7 linked regions of the Homo sapiens genome follow. The protein of the gene in region 2 purifies or fractionates together with the protein of the main gene of each other region. This does not show direct contact. Each region holds a gene or a part of one and is shown on either strand. Other genes may lie near its edges. The genes, in order: TGFBR3, LRRTM4, TRIM44, BOD1, NRP1, RRP1 and ZC3H18.

The links.
Region 1: the proteins of LRRTM4 (region 2) and TGFBR3 purify together in Homo sapiens (affinity purification with mass spectrometry; one large-scale study listed by BioGRID and IntAct). This does not show direct contact.
Region 3: the proteins of LRRTM4 (region 2) and TRIM44 purify together in Homo sapiens (co-immunoprecipitation; one large-scale study listed by IntAct). This does not show direct contact.
Region 4: the proteins of LRRTM4 (region 2) and BOD1 purify together in Homo sapiens (co-immunoprecipitation; one large-scale study listed by IntAct). This does not show direct contact.
Region 5: the proteins of LRRTM4 (region 2) and NRP1 purify together in Homo sapiens (co-immunoprecipitation; 2 studies listed by BioGRID and IntAct, with this or other methods). This does not show direct contact.
Region 6: the proteins of LRRTM4 (region 2) and RRP1 purify together in Homo sapiens (co-immunoprecipitation; one large-scale study listed by IntAct). This does not show direct contact.
Region 7: the proteins of LRRTM4 (region 2) and ZC3H18 purify together in Homo sapiens (co-immunoprecipitation; one large-scale study listed by IntAct). This does not show direct contact.

Annotation. Positions count from the first base shown.
Region 1 is NC_000001.11:91,711,652-91,715,151, forward strand, and holds part of TGFBR3 (transforming growth factor beta receptor type 3 isoform a precursor), read right to left. Parts: intron 892-3,500; coding exon 592-891; intron 1-591. UniProt on the Homo sapiens protein: Cell surface receptor that regulates diverse cellular processes including cell proliferation, differentiation, migration, and apoptosis.
Region 2 is NC_000002.12:76,749,377-76,752,876, forward strand, and holds part of LRRTM4 (leucine-rich repeat transmembrane neuronal protein 4 isoform a precursor), read right to left. Parts: intron 1-3,500. UniProt on the Homo sapiens protein: May play a role in the development and maintenance of the vertebrate nervous system. Exhibits strong synaptogenic activity, restricted to excitatory presynaptic differentiation.
Region 3 is NC_000011.10:35,683,275-35,686,774, forward strand, and holds part of TRIM44 (tripartite motif-containing protein 44), read left to right. Parts: intron 1-1,984; coding exon 1,985-2,062; intron 2,063-3,500. UniProt on the Homo sapiens protein: May play a role in the process of differentiation and maturation of neuronal cells. May regulate the activity of TRIM17. Is a negative regulator of PAX6 expression.
Region 4 is NC_000005.10:173,606,651-173,610,150, forward strand, and holds the end of BOD1 (biorientation of chromosomes in cell division protein 1), read right to left. Parts: intron 3,021-3,500; exon of another isoform or gene 2,928-3,020; intron 2,785-2,927; coding exon 2,589-2,784; 3' UTR 2,588-2,588; intron 1,643-2,587; coding exon of another isoform or gene 1,615-1,642; 3' UTR 495-1,614; downstream 1-494. UniProt on the Homo sapiens protein: Required for proper chromosome biorientation through the detection or correction of syntelic attachments in mitotic spindles.
Region 5 is NC_000010.11:33,188,168-33,191,667, forward strand, and holds part of NRP1 (neuropilin-1 isoform a precursor), read right to left. Parts: intron 1-3,500. UniProt on the Homo sapiens protein: Cell-surface receptor involved in the development of the cardiovascular system, in angiogenesis, in the formation of certain neuronal circuits and in organogenesis outside the nervous system. Mediates the chemorepulsant activity of semaphorins.
Region 6 is NC_000021.9:43,802,685-43,805,793, reverse strand, and holds the end of RRP1 (ribosomal RNA processing protein 1 homolog A), read right to left. Parts: intron 2,474-3,109; coding exon of another isoform or gene 2,349-2,473; exon of another isoform or gene 2,289-2,348; intron 2,283-2,288; coding exon 2,020-2,282; 3' UTR 501-2,019; downstream 1-500. UniProt on the Homo sapiens protein: Plays a critical role in the generation of 28S rRNA.
Region 7 is NC_000016.10:88,625,903-88,629,402, reverse strand, and holds part of ZC3H18 (zinc finger CCCH domain-containing protein 18), read right to left. Parts: intron 1,782-3,500; coding exon 1,621-1,781; intron 1,484-1,620; coding exon 1,284-1,483; intron 646-1,283; coding exon 549-645; intron 1-548.

The sequences.
Region 1 (3,500 bases), on a different chromosome or scaffold from region 2:
TTGCAGATCTCCCCTATCAAATGCATTCCACCAAGGTCAAATGGTTCTGCTTTTTGTTATGGCAATAGAACATTCAATCTGGAGAGTGACAGGAGGCAAATATGATGAACTGATATGAAACTGAGAAAAGCTAAAATATTTGTTAGTTTCCCCTAGAAGTCTCCCTGAGACAAGTCAACCTTATATTTCACACAGAAAAGGTTAAAAAACAATGACAATGCCAGTCCCAGCAGGACCTGGAAAAATTAATTCTCACAATGAACTTGTCCTTTCGGCTTGCTGTGTTTTTGGCCTGCAAACTATCTGAAAAGCAAAGATAAAGCCAGAAATCTCCCTCCATGGAAAAGCGTCTTGATTTATCACTCGTAAGGTACTACTAAGTAGCACGCATGGAAAAAAGAAACTCATGCTGTCAGGATTTATTATCTAAGACTCCATAAAACTCACAGTTCCCTGCTAATAGTGACTTTAATATTTCAGTTGGGCAGTTCCAAAACAAAAAACCTCAACCTGCAAGACCTTGGGATTAAACTTTTCTGCCTCACCTAAAAATGCCAAAATAACCATCCGAATGGATGAAGGCCCACAAACCTTAGGCAACTTCTGGGGGTGCTTCTCCATCTTCGTACACAGCGTCAGCTCACACTGTAGAAAGAGCAGTGAGGTGTTGAAGACAGGCTTGAAGACAAAGCTGAATCGCTTCTTATCCATGTCAGCTTGCGGGATAGGAAAGTGCACTCTCTTGGGACTGTAGAATTTCACAGATTCATCTTTAGGACAAATATTCTCAATAATGGTGTAATGAGACATCCTATCAGGGTTCGAATATGGAGAGATAAAGCACGTTTGGATGGCAAATCCCAGTTCTTGTTCAGCCTTAGTAACAGATACCTATGAAAGAACAGAAAGATGAATTAGGAAATGAGTTAGCATCTCACTTTCACTTTAGGCACAAGGACCATATGCCAAGACAGCCCTTCAGATGACACGCTGCTTTATCTTCATAACATAGTTATAGCCTTCTTTCTAATTACAAAAGTAACACACACACATTGAAAGAAAAAGATATTTTCCACTTCAATTTGATATAGATGATGACAGTGAATTATTTCTTTCAAATATTAGTCCATTAGATTCAAATACAAGATGAGTAAGTCTCTTCCACCTCCCAATGAGTCCTCTGAGAGCTAAAAATAAAAACATATTTTGCATTTAAAGTGGATTTTCCGAAGTAAATAAAACACCAGTAGGCAAAGTCCCTAATGTTTTAATAGTACAACACTTATAAGCTAAGCTCTTTTTAAAGACTGACCAAAAAATAGAGTTCAGCGGCAAAATCTATTTAACCTAGGCAGGAAGACTGAGCTTCTAAATTGCAAAAAGTCAGAGTAAGCCTGATGAGAGTCCTGCTTCATCGGCGAGAAGGCAGAGCTGGCTCCGGCGCTGGGTGTCAGTGACGGTGCAACCTGGAGGCCATCATGGGCCTGGTAAAGTGTCCCAGCTGCTCACAGATCCAAATCAGCCTTGCCAAGTACTCCCCCTTCGCTCCATAAGCCCAGGGGTAGTTTAGGGGAAATCTAATCTGGAAACGTTTCCGACTCATTTATACTTCCCCCTTTGAAAACACTTGTATGGGCTACGTCCAAATTTTGTTAAGGTTCTTTTCCTTAGAAACAGGAAGTAATGTTTAGCCAAGTGTAAACAGAATTCAAACCTCAACTATCCTGAACTTAGCTAAAATCCCCAGACCAGAGGAGATTCTCCATTTGGTGACACGTGGATCACTGCATGAACTGCCCCTCCCTGCTATGCCTCATTCTTTGACTAAATTTAGGATCAAAATAAACTTAAACACTTGTAGAAACAGCTAGTCCTTACCCATAGACCAACAGCCGCAGAATCATTTCAAAAGACATGGAGATAGAAACAGACTTTCCACGCTGAGATACCCAGGGGAAACCCCTGACATCACATGGGGCTTTGAATCCGCAGCACTGTTGTGAAAGATTCCTACGTGGTGGTTAACTGCAGGACACTCAACAGTGAAAATGCTAATGAAGAGGATTCTGATAATGTCACTGTGGTGACATTCTGTAAATACTAACACTTCAGTATTTTTGCAATACTTCTGAAAAACAAGATATTCTATCTTGGAAAGGTGGCAAATTACATATGTGCTATTACTAAAAACTGCCGTTTAACATGAACTCAGAAACCACATGCCAAAATGTGTAACAGAGGGACTGCAAATCTCTTCTCTAATCTCAAAAGAAAGTATGTAGCGGCAGAATGTCTAAGGTATCCCAAAAAGGGATACCTTTGTAGCAGAGGGAAAAAATATATATTATTTTTTAATATATTTTATGTATATATAGTTTATATATATAAATTATCAGCAAATCTTTTACTAAAAAGGATTTTACTTTTAGACCAGAAGTGAGTAGGAGAAGGACTACGGGCTTTGTAGTGAGACGAGCTCATAAAAATTACATGCTCTCCTGCTCACGTGCTGGGCACCGAGACTCAGTTTACTCACCTACAGAATGAGAACACGAATACCCACAAGATATCATAATTGTGAAAACTAGCAAAGTAAAAGTTACATGCAAACAACACAGTTCCCAGAGTGTCAATAAATGCTACCTATTAGTAATAGTAGTATTCTAGATTTAAAATTTTGGGTTATTAACAACTGGGTTTGTAAATTCCCCAAGACAAATGAACCAAAAGAAAACTGCCATTATGTGACCAACAGTCACCTGGAGATGACCAATGAACAGGTGGCAACACTGTTAACTTGGATTATGAAAGGGACTGTATGGTGTAGAGGGAATAGAGGATAAACTATGAGAAATATAGGTGATATATGAAAAGGTATAAATGGGAAAACAAGAATGGAAAAAAAAAACTACCAATAACACACTTCAAGTAAGCCAGCATTTGAAGGATGGGGGAAAAAACCCAAAATATCCAGGGTAAGGTACAGGAGGAAGATTGACCACTGATTAGCATAAATCAGCAAAGCCAGGCATAGATTTGGAAAAGAACAATCTGCAATTATGCAGCACCCCTGAAATCCACAGCGCAATAGGGTGCTGTTGACCAACTGCCCATGTGAACTGTACAGCCAGAAAAGCAAGAGAAAAACAGCCATCTTGGCTTAGGAAAAGCATGTAGAAGGCAGTATATTTTCCCCAATGGAGAAAGAAGGTGTGCTCAAAGAAAGAGAACTCTCAGAATGGGGGAGGGGCAGAATCCATATGATCAAGGAAAACAACATCTAGCGCCAGCGGGCTCTGTCCCAGAGTCAGTGCGAATGTGAGAGTTATGTGTCTTTCCAAAACAGAAACACGTGCACCAAAGTCACTTTTAACATATGGAAGTACCCCACTTTGACCCTTTAAGCTTCTCACCCCTCCCACTATGAAGCTGAGCTTGCAGCTGAGCACCAAAACCAGCTCATTAGATGAGGACCTTCCCATAAGACCAACAGATGATAT
Region 2 (3,500 bases):
TACACTTTTATTTATATATATAAACATATATGTAACTTTTTATTTGATACCTATACACAATTGAAATCTTTACTATCATCATGTGTAACTTTTATTTAGTTTTAAAAAATAATCACAATTTCCTATAGATTAATTCTAACACTCTATCACATATCAATACTGGACCAAAGAACTCTGGAATCATGGGAGAAGGCACATCTTTATGTTCATAATATGTAATGTTATTATTGGTTTTCAAGGTAACAAGCCAAATATGTGTCTAATGTTAGCGTAACAGACCTGAATAATGGTCTGCAGAAATTCATTTAATATAAAAAGCAGAAAATATCAGTTATAATAATTTTGAATTTTGGTGGAGCTTTTAATTAAGCCATAAATTTCTGATAAAGATAAATATATTCCAAATTTAGGAAAAAGCAAATGATACTTGCTTACTTGTTGTTCTCATGCTAGAATATTTCTCATACTTGCGAGTTACAATTTGACACTCTTGATGAACAATCCACAGATGAGAAAAGTGCAAAGGCTCCATTGCCCTGTAAGGTTAGATGTTGTGGCAGGTTTTAAACTATTGACTCTCAGCTCTAAGTTCCCTTCTGTGGTTGCTTTTAGGATGCTGAGGTTTGGACTTTGCAAACCACATATCTGTTTTATTTGTGGTTTCCTGTTAGGCTTTGCCAATGGAGGGAGATGGCAAGACTTGGCAGGGAGAGGGAATTGCTCCCATTGTTGGTTTCCTGTTTTGTTTCTTCCTCCTCCAGGAATTTATCCTAATGGCATGTCTTCATTCTGGCTATATCAATTTATTCCCACAGCAGCAGGTGCTGCCTCTTTGTAGTATTTCCAACATTTGCAGTATATCCAACATTTGATCTCATCAAGCCCTCCTCAGAGACACCAGCACTAGCACCAGAGAGATTTGAGGTTCATCACCACAAAGCTTCTCCTCCAAGCTTTTAAGTCTTAATGATCTTCCTTTCGTTCCCTCAGCCCTGTAAGTTGTAGGGGTGGTAGCTACTTCCTAACATTGCTGTTTCTGTGATACCACAGCAATATCTTAGCCTTTGCATAAACTTGGTTAATAACTCTATATCCAGTTAGCATTCTTTCTAAAATTTCTTTCTTAAAATAACTGATATTTTGTCAGTCTCCCGACTGGACTATGTTTGAATCCTTCTGTATCTAAAAGTGCAGAAATTAAGTTGTTTTGATTTTATAATTTACTAGAGTTAACCACCAGAGGTCTTATGGCTCCCTATACTGCAGGGAGTTAACCAGTCTTAAATATAATTCAGCAAACTTATTTTTAGATGTCATTCGTCTGTTTACTATGCAAGTTCCTCAAATGCTCTTAAAACTAGCTCTAGTATTTTCTTGCTGGTATTTTTATTAATGTGATTAATACAACGTTGACACAAATTCCCTCTCTATTCTTATGAGAATTATGTTTTTAACACCTCTCTGCTTATTAAGGGGAAAGTCACCTCCTCACAGTTTTTAAGTCTTAGATTAAAGCAATGTTTTCTATGCGCAAATGCAACTCATTAGTAGGTTATGAAATCAATTTTGTGAATCCAAATAAGCATTTAAAAAATTAAATTAGCTAGAATAGAAAGTATCAGAGTATAAAGATAAGTTGTTCATAAGAGTTTTGTTTTAAATTTATGTATGTGCATATCAATGTGTGTACTGGGACACATTTTGAAGTTTGAAAATTGGGAATCATGGTAGACCATGTTTTTGAAAAAATACTTGATCAAAGCACATATTCAGATTACAATTTATTTTACAGTGACTGGCAATAGCCTAGATAAATTCCCATTCTGTTTTTACTATTCACTTCTATTAACTTGTATAATTCACTGTTTTTCACAATGAGTTGGAAAATTAAATCAATATGTAATGCTTTGTTTCTGATTTGTTGTTGTTTTACCTCTAAAGGAAGGTAAAAACTATTTTCAGGAAGTCTTTTACAAAATAGTAACAAGAGTATTTCTCATCAAACAAGCTATTGATAAAATCTTGAATATGCCATTCTATTCTGTAAAAAGGAGAATTGCAAAAAATACATACTAGGTCAGAGTTGTGATTGATAGTGATATTTTAAAAATTGGACCTTAATTTCTGTGCTGACAGAGAGAGCTAGGAACAGACTGTAAAGTGACATGGCCGAATTACTAGATACTAAATAAAAGTTAGCTCTAATCTCCCTCACCCCAAGTCTATTGTTTTGTTTTGTTTTTATTATATCTTATTCAATGAGACCTCTTTCAATCAGTACAGGTTCAGACGTAAAATGTTTGCCAGCGGGACCTATTTTAGGAAACCTCATAGGATTTTTCAGGGTGTCAGATTCCTGGAGATATGTGGGATTGGTGCCATGGGTCACTTATACTCCAAGAAAGCATCGAAATGTAAGAAGACACTTTGTGCTGACATTTCAGTGGGAAGAATGCTTTCAAAAGGGATTTCCTAAGAGTAATACAGCCCATTCGTACTCTCTTGTTAACTGGTGAAGTAACATAATTTGAAAATCACATAAAAATTCAGCAAATTATTTCCAAATGGAAACAACATTCACTGATTATAGAACATTTATTCTACACTTTAACTTAAATACATGACTAATTTTCTACAAATTAGCCAAATTACTAAAAGACATCAACATGAACATTAAACATGGGTTGTGGTTTTGTTCACCGTCTTGTAGCTCTGTCAATGGTCTTCACAAAGAAGAGATACTTGAATTCACAAACATGTATAGAACAGTGAATGTGAGATGAAATCAGGGCCTTAGGGATCTTTTTGCACAACCAGGTGAATCTACAGATGAAAATAAGTAGCTCATAAGTGAACATTGTTGAATTTGCAATGTTTACTTAAAGCCTTTTAATTTAAACTATAGTGGGAGATAACAATTTCATAGCTAAGAAATCATGGTATTTGTCTTTGAATTAAGTTGACTTAAAAGTCAAGGGACCTGCATTAACTGCAAAGCTTTACGTTTACATATTACACCATTTCTGAACTGAGAAAATTTGTTTTGCTATTACAATTGCAGTTTATTTTTTTACAGCACTTAAAAGAGGGCTCATGTCATTTTCTCTATTGTAATTGAGGCAGGCTTAAAACCTCTTGGAGAGTAAAAACCATTGTAAAGTTCCCTCCTGCACAGCAGACCAATAGCAAGAATTCAAAAGCCAAGTGCATTGGCAAGCTTTGAAAGAGTATCTGAAATATTTGCTCTTTTACTCTTCAAGTGTATTCTATAGGGCACTATGTAATCAACTGAATTCGTGGTTTCTGAGGAGCTCAGAGGCTGAGGTCTTGTACTTTACAGTAATAGTGTACAGTACATTAACCACCTGGGTCCCTGTGTGTGTCATTGTTTCCTTTCCAGTAGTCAAAACAAAGTATTCTTAAGTTTTGCTTAATTCAGATTTGGTATTTTTGTAAATGTGTTCTCAGAGCCTCTCCAAATGGTTCTGTGTTCCATCAGC
Region 3 (3,500 bases), on a different chromosome or scaffold from region 2:
GAACTTATTAAAATTTAGAACCTTTGCTAACATGGAAATGTGATTTAAGCTGTGTTTGGAGAACACATCTAAAGTAGATATTGGTTGTAGTCATGTTGTGTCTGATTTTTACTGTGTAGACTTGAGAGGCAAGAGAGGTCAGAGGGGGGAAAATTGACCCTTTAGTATATTTTAATTTATATAGTGGAATCTTATTAGGTATTTCCTATTTTGGAGGAATTGAAATTAGTTCTGTAAATTTGGAAGATATGTTATCACAGATCCAGAGGCCAATTTTGAGTAAGAGATATTTGCAGTATCTGTTTATTCTTGTACTTCTTTGTTGTCCCTACCCCATAGAAATGACAGTGAGTTTACCTCTTTTTGCTTCCTTTCCCTCATTGGTGAAATGAATGTTCCTACCTATCTGATAGAGTTGTTGAGATAAGAAAATAAATGAATTCCTGTGATTTTAGATTGTCCTATATATAATATAATGTATTATTATTATGGCATTCATGTCTTAAGGTTATATGTTCATTCATTGATTTGTTCAGACTTTTTACAACATCTAGATGCTGGGCATAAGAGATACAGGGATACAAAAAAATACAGTTCTTACCCTTAAGGAACTGAAAATATCACGAGGGAGACAGATAGTAATAAAACTGTTTCATACTTCCTTTTTTATTTACCATGTGCCAGGCTCTGTTCTGAGTACCTTGACATACATTAACTAATTTAATCTTACTGCAGTCCTATGAAATAGATAGTTATTGGCTCTATTTTACAGATAAAGAAATTGAGACAGAGAGAGGGTAAGTAACTTGCCTAAGGTCACACAGCTAGTGTGTGACTAATGGCACTAGGGCTCTAGTCTGTGCTCTAAATCTGTACTGACCAATATAGTAGTCACTAGTCACATGTGGCTTTGGAGCACTTGTAATGTGGCTGGTTTAAATTGATTGGGCTGTAATTGTGAAATACTAGATTTCAAAGACCTAGCATAAAAAAAAATCTCATGTTGAAATTGCATGTTGTAATGATATTTTGAATATACTGAGTTAAGTAAAATACATCAAAATCAATTTTACTTTTTAATTGTGGCAGTTATAAAATTATATACATACGCTTGCATTTGGGACTCACATTAGTCTTTTATTGTACTGTGCTATTCTAAATCATTATACTGTAATAATAGTAATAGCATATGAAATTTTTGAGCACTCACTGTGTGCCACATACTGTGCTAATATCTTTTAAAACACTTTCAGTTAGGCCCCAAAATAGCCCAGTTTATTATCACTATTTTATAGAAGGGGGAGAAGGTTTTGAGACATTTAGTAATTTGCCTGAAATTAATCAACTAGTTAATGGCAAATCCAAAATTGGAACTGTATATGTCTGACTCAAAAACCTGTGAGTTTTATGGGTTTTTTTGGTGTTGAACTCCTGGCCTCAAGCAATGCTCCTGCCTCAGCCTCCTGAGTAGCTGAAATTACAGGTGCAAGCTACCACACCCAGTTAAAAAACCTGTGTTCTTAATCAGCACACTACAGTTCCATTCATAATTAAATTTCAGACTATTTTCTTTGTTTTAATTTTTATAAGTATATTTAATATTGCATACTTCTATATCTGATGCATAAAGGTTCAAAATAAAAATTACCAGTCTGTAAAATAGACATCTTGTATGGAACTGTCTTTTGTAGAGCTTCAGTGAACACCAGCACAGTTGAGCCTGAGATGAAGCAGTGAGTCAGCCTATACAAATTGTATTTAATTTTCATTCCATATAGTTGTGCCAGTCACTGGGCAATTTATGTCCTGACACTCTTTGTCCATAGAGAAGGGAAAGAGGGGCAATGCACCTCTCCTTTGTTGTTTAGCTCTCTTGGCTGTTAAGAAAAAATTGCTTTCTATTTCATTGTCTTCCAAAATGCTGTTTGTGTTTGAGAGAGCAACAAAATGCTGTCTAGTGACCCCTCACTTTTCTTTCTTCTAGAGCAAAGACTCAGGTGGACTGAAGGCCGCTATGATCGAATTGGTGGAAAGGTTGAAGTTCAAGAGCTCAGACCCTAAAGTAAGTATTGTTTGGAATTGATTGGGTGTTGGTACCCCAAGCATTTCATTCTCCTTGAGCTAAAATTGTGAGGTGTTGATGATCATCTCTCTGAATATTGCATTAAGATTTAATTAAGCCTGCCCATCAGAAACAGTGTCCTGATATGCCTAGAGATAAGTCATCTATTTTTCTCCTTCTCTATTTTATGACTTACAACACATAATCATTCATTGTTTTCCCTGAACTGCAGACAGGTGCATTTTTAATCCTCCTTTACCAGGGGTCTTTGAATCTTTGGTCCTCTGTGTCCATTAGATGCAGCCAAAGGCGTCTGAGAGAAATACAGATCATCTTTTTTTTTTTGAGACAGAGTCTCGCTCTGTTGCCCAGGCTGGAGTGCAGTGGCGCAATCTTGGCTCACTACAGCCTCCGCCTGCCGGGTCCAAGCCATTCTCCTGCCTCAGCCTCCTGAGTAGCTGGGATTACAGGCCTGCGCCACCATGCCCTGCTAATTTTTGTATTTTTAGTAGAGACGGGGTTTCACCATGTTGGTCAGGCTGGTCTCGAACTCCTGACCTCGTGATCCGCCCTCCTCGTCCTCCCAAAGTGCTGGGACTACAGGTGTGAGCCACCGCACCAGCTGAGAAATACAGATCATCTTAATGCCAGGGACTGGCATGGGATCCAGACTCATCTAGTTGGTGTTCAGCACTAGCGTCTTATCTCTCCACTGCTTCCAGGAGCCAGCTGCCACTCAGAATACTTTTTTCCTCATGACCTGAAGTCTGGTTTGGAAACTGGTTTAAGTGTCCCGGCTTTTTTTTTTTATTTCAATATGTTAGGGTCTAGAGGATTGATATTCTGGGAGACACCATAACGGGGTGGAGGTAAACGGAACTGAACAGACTTCCTTCTCCTTCCTACCCAGACACTTACTGTGGCACTACCTGGTATTGGGGCCAGCTGGCTTTGCCTTAGAATCAAAGTTTCTCACAATTAAATAGGGAAAGGCGCATGATTTTATTTTACTGTAGGTTCTTTTTGTTTTTGTTTTTGTTTTTTTTTTTTTTAAGAGGAATGGGACTAGCATTTCTTGAGTATCTACTGAGAGTCAGGCACTTTGCTAGGACTCTTACATGATTGTACTAAAATATACATACAAAATTTTAACCATTTTTGAGTGTACAGTTCAATGGCATTAAGTACATTCACTTTGGTTTTTTGTTTGTTTGTTTGTTTTTGTTTTTTGTTTTTTTGAGACGGAATCTCGCTCTGATGCCCAGGTTGGAGTGCAGTGGCATGATCTCGGCTCAGTGCAACCTCTCCCTCCCAGGTTCAAGTGATTCTCCTGCCTCAGCCGCCTGAGTGGCTGAGACTACAGGCACATGCCACCACACCCAGCTAACTTTTTGTGTTTTTACTAGCGACAGAGTTTCACCATGTTGGCCAGGCTGGT
Region 4 (3,500 bases), on a different chromosome or scaffold from region 2:
GGAACTTCCCATTAAAGCTATGTGGTCCTGAAGAGGAGACACTCCAGTTAGTCTGAGCAGCTTTTCTGCAAGCACAGGACTGGTTAATTCTGGCCACTCCCTGTCTGCCTAGTAGTAGAGAGGAGTGGAGGGTCCATTTTCTGGGGTTAAGAACTTTGTTGACTCCTGCAACTGTAAGGCAGCTTGAAATGGAACTGCACCTACCAGGTGGGAACAGACCACACGTCAGATATAACTGGCACCTGCCTTAAACGTGTGGCCAGTTTGCTTTAAAATTAGGGCACATGCTACCAAGCATCTTGCTGAATATGGCACTGCAGTGCTCATACAGGGGTATTCATGGTAAAGGTGGAAGTGGAGCCTTTGTCTTAACAGGGAACCAACTGAATTGGTTAAAATTTTGATCAGATTAGCAGCAATATGCAGTAGTAGACTCAACCAAGAACCACAGACTTAGTTAGACATAATCTTGGATATATTATCCAAGGCTTATTATACAGAGTATGTTCAGAGGCCTGGCAGCATCAGCATCACCTGGCAGCTTGTCAGAAACACTCACTCTTAGGTCCCACCCCAGAACTTCTTAATCAGAAATATGCATTTTCCCTTAAATCCCCAGGTGCTACTTCTGCACACACAAGGATGACAAACACTGACACATACCACGGACTACCTCAACTAAAGACCAGTGTCAGTAATGGCTCAGGGAGGAGAGAAACAGCCCACTACTAGCTACACCTACTAGTTTCATAGTTCCAAGTTATATGTACCAATCTTCACTGCCAGTAGATCATGTGTGGTGCACAGAGGCAGAAGACAAAGGTTGCCCTTCACAGACCTGAGGTTTAAGCTTCAGCTGAAGCTTCGGAGTAAAAGTATCAAATAATTTTATTATGAAAGATAAGCCATTTATTGACCATTCACTTTTCTAAAAAAACACAAATGTGAGAATAAAATAAACATACCTAAGACTCACTGGCCCCTCCAGGACAGGAAGCAGCCCTGGACAGAGAGCCTGCAAACGAGTTTCCTTATGCCTAATGTCTGAACTTCTCATACATTCTAGGATTTCATGTTTCGTTACAAAGGAAAGGAAACTGGCTAGAAGATTCATGTACAAGAAGGTCACAACTTTAAAGCTATCTGACGCTAATGACTTGTACAATCTGGTTTGCAAACTCTGAGAGACAGTATCAAATAAGCACTGTCAAAGACTACTCCCAGCTAATCTTTACTGTCATTTTTCTTTGAAATTGTCTTTGGGACTGGCTATGTTCTCACTGTAGCTTCCGTTTATCCCACAGCACAAACCCTAAAGTCCATGTGCAGTCTCCATGTTCAAGTATAAAAGTCTGTTTCAGGACAACCCTGGGTTGCTGTAGTGTTTCTCTCTCTGTAGTGTCTACTTGGTGTCATGCCCTTGGACAGGCTGGCCAAATGGCAGCACAATGCAGGGGGTGACACGGTCAACTCTCCCACTGCCGAACTTGCTCCCCTTTCAATCTGGTCACTGCCCATGGTCAAGGTTGAAATCTTGAGATCAGTGACGACCTTGGCCTATCTTCAGTCTGAAGTTGCACTCTTATGTAACCGAATCCATTTCTTCACCAAAAATTAGCTTTCAAAAGGTGTCTGGCGTATTCTAAAAAGGAAAGATAATCATATCAAAATGTTATTTATTGATAACAGACTATATTCACTTTTATGTTCCTAAAGGAATTTACAATTAAAAAGAAAGACTTAAAATGAATGTTTTACACTCCATATTGGACTCAAGGGCTTCTCTCAATAGAGGAACAAAAAGACAGTCCTGATGCTCTTGCGTTGCTCATCACTGACACTCAAAACGCCCTAGTCAATTCACCTCACTTACTGATTATAACAGGCATCTCAGAGAATCTTAAAAAGAACACCAAATCAGAATGAAGGGATAAAACATATCCCAGCAGTCACCAACAACGGCGAAAAGTCCACTGCTAACTTCATCGCTGCTCCTACTAATGTCTCCCAAAACCTGCAAAAAGCATTCTTTTGTACATCTACAGCTGTTTAAAATTACATTTAATTCCAAATTTAATTTAAAAAGGGGGAGTGTTCCTAACAGAAGAATCCCATGGTAATTGATAGTGGTAAACAAACTCCTTCTAAATTCATGGAAATCGAGTCGCACTCAAAGCAGACTCTGAATCCCATTTAGGATATCACTTCAGAAGGCACTGCTTGATTTTAAATAAAATTGCAAGCCTAAGTTAACTCATGTCCAGGAGAGACTCATTTAAACATTTCAGCAAAATAAGACTTTCATTTGAATCCCCTTTATGCACACCAATCATCCCAGCTGATTTCTAATGAAGCATCTATCCATAGCTTACATGTTTAGCGCTGGTGGAACAGAAAATCAGTCACTGACACAGGAAACTGCTACTAATTAGTTCTCAGTAAAAAGTGACTTATAACAGTAGGTGAAGTCCATCTGCAGTAAATACTTCCTGAATGATCCTCAATTACGGCCTACCCCATTCCTATCCATTTTACATATCTACAAGCCAGAGATGCATACTCCTGGACAGAAGATAGGATACTGGACCTTAGGAAGTGTCCTGAGATGGAGCTGGAGGGTCCTGGCCTTCGGGCTCTGGAGGGGGTGCTGGCACAGCTGCTTTTTTCTGGGCCGCCAGGAACTCATGAATTGCTCGTTCTATTTGTGGCCTGAAGATGTGGTTAAGTTTTGGATCCACCACCTGAGAAATAATCCTGTCTACTCCAGCTTCCAACATCCCTGACCTTGTGGAGACAAACAGATCATTCTGTTATTTAGTTCCTTCGGGATTCATCTTTAGCCCCAATAAGTGTCACGTGCGAGCCCAATAAATGTCCACCTTCAAAGCTACAGCCCTTCTAGGGAGTTTAGAGGTCAATCCACTTACCATATACAGCTCACGCTATTTTCACTTTTGAGGGGTAATTCTCAACCAGCAGCTGTTATTCCTACTGCACAATCTCACCCACAATCACCCAACCTTGTACAAAAGAATCAAAAACAAAACTAAGTGAGTTGCTCCAAAACAACAAACAAATGACAGCATGGTGAGAAAGAGTTTGACACGTGTGGCACTGAAAAGCTTCCTCGTACTGTCAAAGCCAGTAAGCCCCGAATTGGACTCCATTTCCTTCAACATTTATTCTCCTAATAGCCTAAGCAGAAGTAGCTCCAGCAGCAACCTGTTTACTAATCCTTAAAATTTAAACAAGGCCGATCAGTCAGGGCTGGGAGTATTTACATCACCAGCAATTCACCATGGCCTTCAGCTGTAGTTGCTACCTGTAACACATAATAAGCAACTTGGAAGCAAACAAGAAATAGACAAACAAATTAGTTCCAAGCTCCTAGAGGGCTAAATTACATCCCCGATCCTTTCTGAAGTAGAGCAAAAATCAGGGCATATCAATGTCTATATTCAAACACTTGGGACAGGGTACTGGAAATGATGGTGAGAGGA
Region 5 (3,500 bases), on a different chromosome or scaffold from region 2:
CCATCGTGCCTCTGTCCCCTCAATCTTACGGAAAAAAGACTGAAATTGGCAATGCTGCTGCCATGTCTTAATCCCACTTATTGAGCTCATTGCTCAAAGTTTATTGAGGCTAGTCAGAGAATGGGTGTTAGAAAGAAGGAGAGAAGTGGACGTAGGTAGAGGGATGCTCTCCCATAGGACATCCTCACTCAACTGCACCATAATCACTTCCCATCCACAACTAGACAGTAAGTTCCTCAAGCACAGAGACCCCCTCCTTCATACCTGTATTTCCAGTGCCCAACACAGCACCTGCCATGTAACAGGGCTTCTCAAATGATGCCTGTTCAGTGCAGTAGGAGAGATGCCAGATTTCAAGAATCCTCTGCCTGAGGAAGTTCTTATGGTCCCTGCCTTCTCACACTGTGGTCTTTAAATATGCTCGTGTGGCCGGGCGCGGTGGTCCACGCCTGTAATCCCAGCACTTTGGGAAGCCGAGGTGGCTGAATCACCTGAGGTCAGGAGTCCGAGACCAGCCTGGCCAACATGACAAAACCATGTCTCTACCAAAAATACAAAAATTAGCCGGGCGTGGTGGCGGGCATCTGTAGTAGCTCCTACATAGCTGTAGTCCTAAGTAGCTGGGACTACAGCTACTTAGGAGGCTGAGACAGGAGAATCGCTTGAACCTGGGAGGTGGAGGATGCAGTGAGCCAAGATCACACCACTGCACTCCAACCTAGGCAACAGAGACCCTGTCTTAAATATATATATATATATATATATATATAAATTAAAACTGCTCGTGTTGCTCCTCTGCTTAGAATTCTTCAGAGGCTGCTCACTGCCTGCAGCCTATCCACACTTCTTCACAAAGAGGGAGCGCTGGCAGCCCCTCCAATGGACCTTTTATCCACCCCCATCCTGTTTTCCTCCTGGTCACTGCATCACCAACTTAAGGTATAGTATAAAGAACCAGCAGTGTCCTGCCAAACACACACACACACACACTCACTCACAATAAACACCCGATCCACAAACTTCTGCTCTACTCAGTGAAAATGGAAGGAATCCAATTTCATCAATTTCCTTGTCAATCTCATTAGGCAAGGAGGTAGTTCCCAAAGTCATGCACACTCTGCCTCTATCTAACTGCTTCCCATACAAAAACCTGTGCAAAGCACACCAAACATGAGCCAGTAAAATAAGCCTAGCTCAGCCGGTGTCTGAGACAGGGCTGCTTTCCTTGACCCCTCTTCCGTCATCTTTTACATGGTCCATTGTCACTGGCCTCTGCCATTGGAAGCCCTCACTGAACTGCACTGTGGTTGCTTCCCAACCATGATCAGACTGCGAGTTCCTCAAGCGTAGGGACCTCTTCCTTTACACGTGTATTTCCAGTGCCCAAGTCAGCATCTGCCCTGTAACAGAGCTTCTCAAATACCACTTGTTCACTGAACCAGGGAGAGATGCCAGACTTCAGGAATCCTCTGAAAGGAGGTACCTAGTTCCATTCTTTGAGGTCAAATGCAGAAAACCAAGCAAATGGGATGCCTTTCGATAAGCAGCAGGATATTTTACCTAGCTAGTGTTCATTTTCTTTTTAAACAACCCAATGTCTGGCTTGCAAAGTTTCACCAAATAATATTATAAAAAAAGCACCATCTACTCTCTAATGTCAGTCTATGCGCGGGAGCTTCGTGAAGGGCTCTTTTCATCTGGATCTTTTTCCCGTTAACAAGTAGTTCCTGCCTTTCAGATGTCGGGCTCACCCATCTCTCTACACAAATGATTGTGTTTCTAGAACTGCAGGGGCTCTTTCTAGTCGGAGCTGACCTGGCACAACTGCCAAGTAAATCTGGGTGGCTGAGAGAACAAAAGAGTCAAACCCTTCTGAAGGAATCGCACTTCTCAGCTGTTAATCTACGACAAGCTCTCCTTCTCTGATACTCTAACACATAAAGCACTGATATTTTCCCTTTCAAGGGTTTTATCACAGTTCTGGGTCAGGAACTCTGTCTTCATTTTCTCAATTAGCACTTTACTTCTGCAAGCCTTTTAGCTTTTGTCTCTGGCTAACATAGCTTTTAACCTCCTTTGAATGTCAGATCCTACTGAGCCATTTTGCTTCACTTTGCATCAATTTTTCCACCATTACTGCCTTCATTTTGGCTAATTGCATTTAGTTAATTTGATGCCATTTATATGTACAGTGCCATTTACAGTCAAAGTATTTTAAGTTTTCTAAAACTGCCTGTCTTAAGATTCAATTGAAAGTGTCTCAGATTTGAAGGAGTCCAATTTTATCCAATTTCCTTGTCATTCTCATTAGGCAAGGAGGTGGCTGTGGTGGAAGGAGGCCTATTCAACCTATTTAATGGTTATATTCACTGGGAGAAAAGTGAACCACAAAATGGGAAAGGCATGAAGTACCCTTGGCCCAGCCTTCAGTCCACTGACTCACTCACCCAAAGAGCCAAGATGGGGAGAATTTAATGAGATTTCCTAGCATCAGCAAATGCCCCCCTGGGGTACCTTTTGGGAAGCCACTACTTGAGCAAGCAGTGCTCTGTAAGTATTTCTGAGTGGGTGCAGAAGTTCATGGATTGGGCGTTTGTTGTGAGTGTGTATATGTGTGTGTGTGTATGTGTGTGTGTGTGCATGTGTGTTGGGCCAGACATGGCTGGTTATTTCTTTATTTTTAATTTTTATTTTTTTCTCTTTAGAGACAGGTTCTAATTCTGTCACCCAGGCTGGAGTGCAATGGTGTGATCATAGGTCACTGCAGCCTTGAACTCCTAGGCTCAAAGGATCCTAAAACAGACTCTGAGTAGCTGGGACTACAAGTGTGCGCCCTTATGCCTGGCTGATTTTAAAAAAAAAATTTATTTTGTAGTGTCAGTATCTTGCTATGTTGCCCAGGCTGGTCTCTAACTCTCTAACTCAACTGATTCTCCTGTTCTGGCCTCCCAAAGTGCTGGGATTACAGGTGTGAGCCACCACGTCCAGTCTGCTGGTCCTTTATACTGTACTTCAAGTTGGGCAGTGAAATGACTAGGTGGGTAGCAGGAAGGGGGCAGATAATAGAGTTCACTGGAGAAGCTGCCAGCTTTTTCTGTCCCCCAACCCATTCCTCCCCCACCAATTAATCTTAGGAAGAAAGTAAGGCAGGAGGTGGTGGGAGGGTTGTGATCTAGGGCATGGTGAGGTTTCTACCTGCTCAAAGGAAATACACTACACTTTCAATCTTTCCCCAGTGAATAAGAATTCCACACCGTCTTTCCCCACCTCCCCTTCAAGGGTCGGGAGAGAGCAAGCATTGTGAATTGTTTCTTTAGTTGTAAAATAAACGAGGGGACATAATATATGCTTGGACTTGTTTGAAAATAATTCAGAGTCAGGGATGACAGACATAAATTAAGTTTCCTATGATCTGATAATTGTTGAAGCAGGGTCGTGCACATAGAGAATTCATTCTACTATTTCTTTTCCATTTGTGAATATGTTTGAAATTGCCCAAA
Region 6 (3,109 bases), on a different chromosome or scaffold from region 2:
AAAATAAAAAAATAAAAAAGTAAAAGAGGCTACCAATAGGAGAGGAATTCAGTCATTCATGTCATAAGCACAATGCGGTTATTTAAAACAATTCTGAATATGGGGAAACGTGCACCCAGCAGGGCCTGGAAACAGCCAGAGCGTGACAGTGCCGGCGCAGCCATGAAAAACCCCTCCCTGTGAACACACATGTGAAAGAAGATGCAAAGTCACTGTGGCTTCCAGTTTCACAACTGCAATTCGGCATCTCTAATTTGCTTTTTTCCAGAAACTTCTGTTAGCATGGTTGTTTCCTTAGCTTTTGACCAAAGAAACTTCAAAAACAAGAAAGCGTTATAATGCACCCCGTTCCCTTCCAAAGGCCTCCAACTGCAGGGGCTCGTCCCAACAGGCCCTGCTGGGGGTAAAGAGGCCAGGCCCAGGGGAACACTGACCAGGCCCAGGGGACACTGCCCAGACCTGACGCTCGCCACCGGCAGTTTACGTTAGACACGCTTGTCTTTTTTTTTTTTTTTTTGAAACAGAGTTTCCCTCTCGTTGCCCAGGCTGGAGTGCAATGGCGTGATCTTAGCTCACCACAACCTCTGCCTCCCAGGTTCAAGCAATTCTCCTGCCTCAGCCTCCCGAGTAGCTGGGATTACAGGCATGTGCCACCACGCCTGGCTAATTTTGTATTTTAGTAGAGATGGGGTTTCTCCATGTTGGTCAGTCTGGTCTCAAACTCCTGACCTCAGGTGATCTGGCCACCTCGGCCTCCCAAAGTGCTGGGATTACAGGTGTGAGCCACTGTGCCTGGCCACGCTTGTCTTTTTAAGTTCCTTTGGGGAAAGAACCCTAACCCCTAGAACAGGGGCCCTGGCCTTCCCTCTCCTTGGCCCCTAACTGTGCCCTAAGCCTGCCCCGGCCGCCCAGCTGAGTGGGACTGAAGGAGGTGTCACCAGGTGCCACCTGCCCGGGGTTGGGGGACACTCGAATGCAGCAGGGCTTTGGGGAACCGGATGCAGTCCAGGGTCTGCACAAGGCCAGCCACAGCCTAGAGGTCCTTCCTGGTCCCAGGCCCACTCCAAGCCCTGGCCTCTCGCTGGATCCCACACGGCCTGGCTGGCTGGGCACCCATGGAACAGAAGATGCGGGCAAAACCCAACGCAGCGGCCCCTTGTCACCTATGCAGGCTGTGGCCACAGCGCTGGCGGCAGACAGGCCCTTGTTCCATGCAGGTGGAAAGCCCTGGGCTACTGTCAGCTCTCCGTCGCCACAGTGGGGACCCGCCACCTCCCTCACAGGCTCCAGCAGGTGTGAAGGGGAGAGGGGCAGGGAGGACGCTGAGGGTGACCTGGCTGAGGGAAAGAGGTGCGCAGCCTGCGGACCCGCGGGTACCCAGGATGGCGGGGCGCTCCTGCCTCCAGGAACAAGGCTCTCGCGGAAGCCAGGTCTTCCCACCACACACACGCTCACCCCGGGCAATCCAGGCCTTACTGGAGCTGAATTCCTTGCACAACTCTAGACCCCAGATTGAGGGGGAAGCAAAAGAGCCCCGTCCAGACAGCCCTGTTAACACCTGGGCAGTTCTGTGAAAGGAGAAATGTCTTGCAAGATTTTTCCACAAACATGAATATAAACCACCACACTGCTCGGAGGCTGGCGCCTGCCACCTCCCACACGTCCGTAGGACACACCTGAAGCGACACTTCCCCTGGCAAGGGCTGCGCGGCATTTTATTTTCTGAACCCCCCACAGCAGGGGCGGCCAGTCCTGCTGCAGGCAGAGTTTCAGTCTTCGGAGTTTGACCTTCTGGCCCAAGGTCATCACAGCCACAGGCGGAGGCTCTGGGGAAAGGTCCAGTTCCTGGGATGCTGGCCCCTAATGATGGGCCCATCTCTCCAGTGCCGCCCTTCCCTCCCGCCTGGCACAGGAGTTCTGGAGCCACGGTCCTGAGTCTACAGAACAGCCCGGTCAGCCTCGTCCCGCGGTGCAAGCGAGGCCTGGCCTCCCTCCCTGCCTGTCCTTGGCCCGGCCACATCACTCCCTGCGTTTCTTCTTCTTCTCCGGCTCCTGGACATTGGCCGCCTTTGCTCGGGCACTGGTCAGGGGCCGAGGTGTCCTCCTTCTCTGGCGAGCCCCTCTCTGGCCACGGCCCCTGGGCTGATCTCGGAGCAGGGCCCGCTCAGCTGTGCCTGGCTGCTCACCAGCCTCTGCCCGCGCCTCGGGGTCGGCCCCTACACCCCTCCTCCTGCTCCTCTTCCTCTCCATGCCCGGGCTCGGGGGCTCCTTCTCACCTTTCCCTGACAAAACAGCAAGACCCCATGAGCCAGAGAATGCCAACACGGGCTCTTTCCACTTACTCCAACTCAGGCTGAGGATGCCAGCACCACAGACCTGGGAGGACAACACGGCCACAACAGCCAGCCAGACGCATCCCGTGTCCAGTGTGGGCGCCAAGCTCCATCCACACGGCTCAGGACCTCAGCAAGGGCTGACCTCAGAAGGACCAGCGTGAGGACAGGGTCATGAGACCCAGGAGCAAAGGCACAGAGGAGTAGGCAGGACTGGGCTCAAGGCAGAAGGGGAGGTGGAAGAACAGGACGCCAGGCAGTGCCAGGTCCTGAACGCCAGGGCCGACAGGGTTCACACAGCCAAGGGCCGGCTACAAAGAGGAGGCCACTGCCTCATGGGAAATGAGATGGACGGCTTCAATGGCACGGAGCTCTGGGCAAGGGAAGGGGTGAATCCCTAGGCCCTGGGGCCAGTTTAGCATGGAGAGAGTAACAGGGAAGGCTTCCCAGTGTGGGGCAAAGCCACCATGTGCCTCCTCTGCACCCCATTCTTGCCATGGGCCCCCTGCCCTGCCCGGCACTGTGCTCAACCCCCTCCACTGCAGGTAGGCAGCTCCAGGCCCTGAGTGGTCTGCCGCGGACCCAGGGTTGCCCCTGGTGAGGGCATCACATGCCAACCACACTCGTGTGGCCAGAGGCCCAACACGGAAGGCAGCCCCAGAAATCAAGGACAGAAGTGGAGGGAAGAAGTGGAGGGAAGAAGGGGAAGGAAGACGTGGAGAGACTCAGGAATCTCTGGAGGGTGCGGGAGAGGAGCGGACGGGGCTTGGATCTAA
Region 7 (3,500 bases), on a different chromosome or scaffold from region 2:
CCAGGTTCAAGCGATTCTCCTGCCTCAGCCTCCCAAGTAGCTGGGATTACAGACGCACGCCACTACGCCCAACTAATTTTTTGTATTTTTAGTAGAAACAGGGTTTCACCATGTTAGCCAGGCTGGTCTCAAACTCCTGACCTCAGATGATCTGCCCACCTTGGCCTCCCAAAGTGCTGGGATTACAGGCATGAGCTACCGCGCCCGGCCTAATTTTTGTATTTTTAGTAGAGACAGGGTTTTACCAGGTTGGCCAGGCCGGTCTGGAACTCCTGACCTCAAGTGATCTGCCGGCCTCAGCCTCCCAAAGTGCTGGGATTATAGGCGTGAGCCACCACGCCCGGTCCTGTTATTTTTAAACAAATATTTAAAACCTTTTCTTCGTTTTAGTTTTCAACACCCTAAATACCGACAGGCATCATCTGCAAGTCAGATGTTCTCTGGACCCTCCTCCTACTTGTTAAGAGCAATGGGGTCTCAGACCCAGCTGCTCCGCATCCCCAGGCTCCCGTCCCTCTGCCCTGCCCCCTAGGGGCTGGGAGGCTCACCTCGGTCTGGGGATGTGTTGGGCCGCTTGGCTGGAGGAGGGCTCTGCCTGTCCTTGTCTGATGGTTCATAGCGCTTCCTGCTTCCTTTATCAGCCGCCTGGGACAAGAGAGAGGCCAGTGAGGACAGCAGGGCCAGGAGCCAGAAGCCGTGTCCTCGCCCCAGAGGACATGGGTTCCTTGCCAGCAACCTGCTCTGCTCCCAAAGGTCCCACCACACACCCATGAGACCCCGTAGCCCTGAGTGAGGCCTCCAGGACCCGGACCAAGGGCACCCCCACTGTGCACTTGGGGCCCTTCACGTTCCAGGGGAAGCACCCTGCAGGCCTTCCTGCTCCCCACGGGGGCCACTCTAGGAGGACCTGGGACCCATGAAGCCAGGCCTCTTGCCCTTCCAGCAGAGGACAGGGATGTGTCCTGCTGAGGACAGAGGACAGGGACGGAGGCTTCCTGTATTGTGTTGAGACTGCATGGCAGGGAATGGCGGCCACAGGCACGAAGAGAACGCCCTCTCTGTTCAGAGAGAGGCCAGCAGCACCCAAACCTCCCCAGATGCTCACACTTCCCAGCCCAGGCCGGAAAGATGGAGTCTCGCTTTGTTACCCAGGCTGTGCTGACACCTGCAAGGCCCCACTCGCCCTCACTCAGGCTCCGTCCCCCAGGAGGAAGCTGTCTCAGGAAGCAGATGGACCCAGGCCTAGACGCTGGGGCAGCCACCAGGAGGGCCCTTGCCCTCACCTTATTCAACAGTGTCAACTTGATCTCCTTGTGGGCCACAAATGTGCCCTGCTGGGGCTGCCCGGGGGGTGCCTGCTGGGGTGTCGAGGGCTGCTGGGAGGACTTCCCCCCTGCTGGAGGTTTTGCAGATTTGGGTGGTTGTGTGGACGAATCCCTTTTCCGCTTTTCCTCTTTAACACCGTCTTCTTTCTTAGATTTTCCTACCAATGATAAATCCGCAGTCATGGGGGTACTGGTGATTTTCCCATGGCCACACCAACAGCCAGGCAAAGTCTGTGCTGATGCCGCCCTCCTCCCCCGGGAGCTGCTCCCCAAAGGTACCAGGGCTCCTGAGTACCTTTCTCCTTCCTGGTCTGGGCTGGGGCCGGGGACCGAGAGCTGGCTGAGGACACGGGGCTAGCCAGGTCTGCGTACATGTCCTCCGAGTCCACGCTGTGTGCAGAGCTGCTGCTCGACGTAGCACTGGACACTGAGGAGACGCTGCTCACGCTCAGGGACCTGGACACACAAGCACATCTCACCACACCCCAGCCAGACTGGAGGGAGGGGCCAGCAGGGGGTGCTCCATGGTCCACTTTTACGCAGTGTCCATTTATGGATCATGTACCCACGGAATGTGTGATTTTGGGGGGACACTGGGCAGTTTCAGGGTTACAAAGTAAGGGACGTCCCCATGGCTAGGCCAGGGCCCCATTTCACTAATCAATGTCAGGTTGCAGCCAGGCACGGCTGCTCACGCCTGTAATCCCAGCACTCTGGGAGACTGAGATGGGCAGATCTCGTCACGAGCAATGGGGTCTGAGACCCAGCTGAACTGATGTCAGGAGTTCGGGACCAGCTTGGCCAACATGGTAAAACCCCATCTCTACTAAAAATACAAAAATTAGCCGGGCGTGGTCGCAGGCGCCTGTAATCCCAGCTACTGGGGAGGCTGAGGCAAAAAAATCGCTTGAACCCGGGAGGTGGAGGTTGCAGTGAGCCGAGACCATGCCATCGCACTCCAGCCTGGGCGACAAGAGTGAAACTCCGTCTCAAAACAAACAAAAAACAAAACGAATGTCAGGTTGCTTTTTGGGAAGGGAAACAGGACTGAGCTGACTCAACAGCGGCAAGGATGGAATTTAAGCAGAGTCCCTGGCTTAGACAAAAGGGAGATAGCCTCAGCCCACAGGGAAATTAAAAACACAAGGAGCAATTCCGCAGTCTCAGGGAATGCCTGAGGAACACACGGCAGACAGACTGGAAACAGCAGGTCTGTAGCTTCACTGGCGTGCACTCAACACGGACACAAAGCACACAGGACTGGCACCTGAGTCTGCCCTGCCCATATGCTGCTCGAGAAAACACCAACCACGTCTTCCAGGTACATTGGGTACCGGAGCAAGGAACGGGGGAATGTAAGAGAACCATTTTTTTTTTTCAAAAGTCAGGTCTTTAAAACATTTCAGACTTATTAAGAAACATTTAGGCCAGGCGCGGTGGCTCATGCCTATAATCCCACGAGTTTGGGAGACCACGGTGGGAGGATCACTTGAGCCCAGGAGTTTGAGACCAGCCTGGGCAACACAGCAAGACCATGTCTCTCCAGAAACAAAACAAACAAAAGAAACAAAGAACTGTGACAAATATATAAACGACCTGCTGCCTGGAAATGAAAGAGTTCTATGCAAGGAATCTAAGGACTGATTTAATACTTTCTTTTAAAACAACTAAATAGCAAAAATCCTTTTTTTTTGTTTTGAGACAGGATCTCTGTTGTCCAGGCTGGAATGCAATGTCGTGATCACAGCTCATTCAACCTTGACCTCCCAAGTAGCTGGGATCATAGGCACACACCACTATACCCAGCTAATTAAAAAAAATTTCTGGGCTGGGTGCAGTGGCTCACACCTGTAATCCCAGCACTTTGGGAAGCCGAGGCGGATGGATCACCTGAGGTCAGGAGTTCAAGATCAGAAACGTGGTAAAACCCAGTCTCTACTAAAAATACAAAATTAGGCTGCGTGCGGCGGCTCACGCATGTAATCCCAGCACTTTGGGAGGCCAAGGTGGGTGGAATGCCTGAGCTCAGGAGTTTGAGACCAACCTGGGCAACATGGTGAAACCCCATCTCTACTAAAATACAGAAAATTAGCTGGGCGTGGCAGTGTGCGCCTGTAGTCTCAGCTACTCAGGGGGCTGAGGTTGAATCCGGGAGGCGGAGGTAGCGAGATCGCG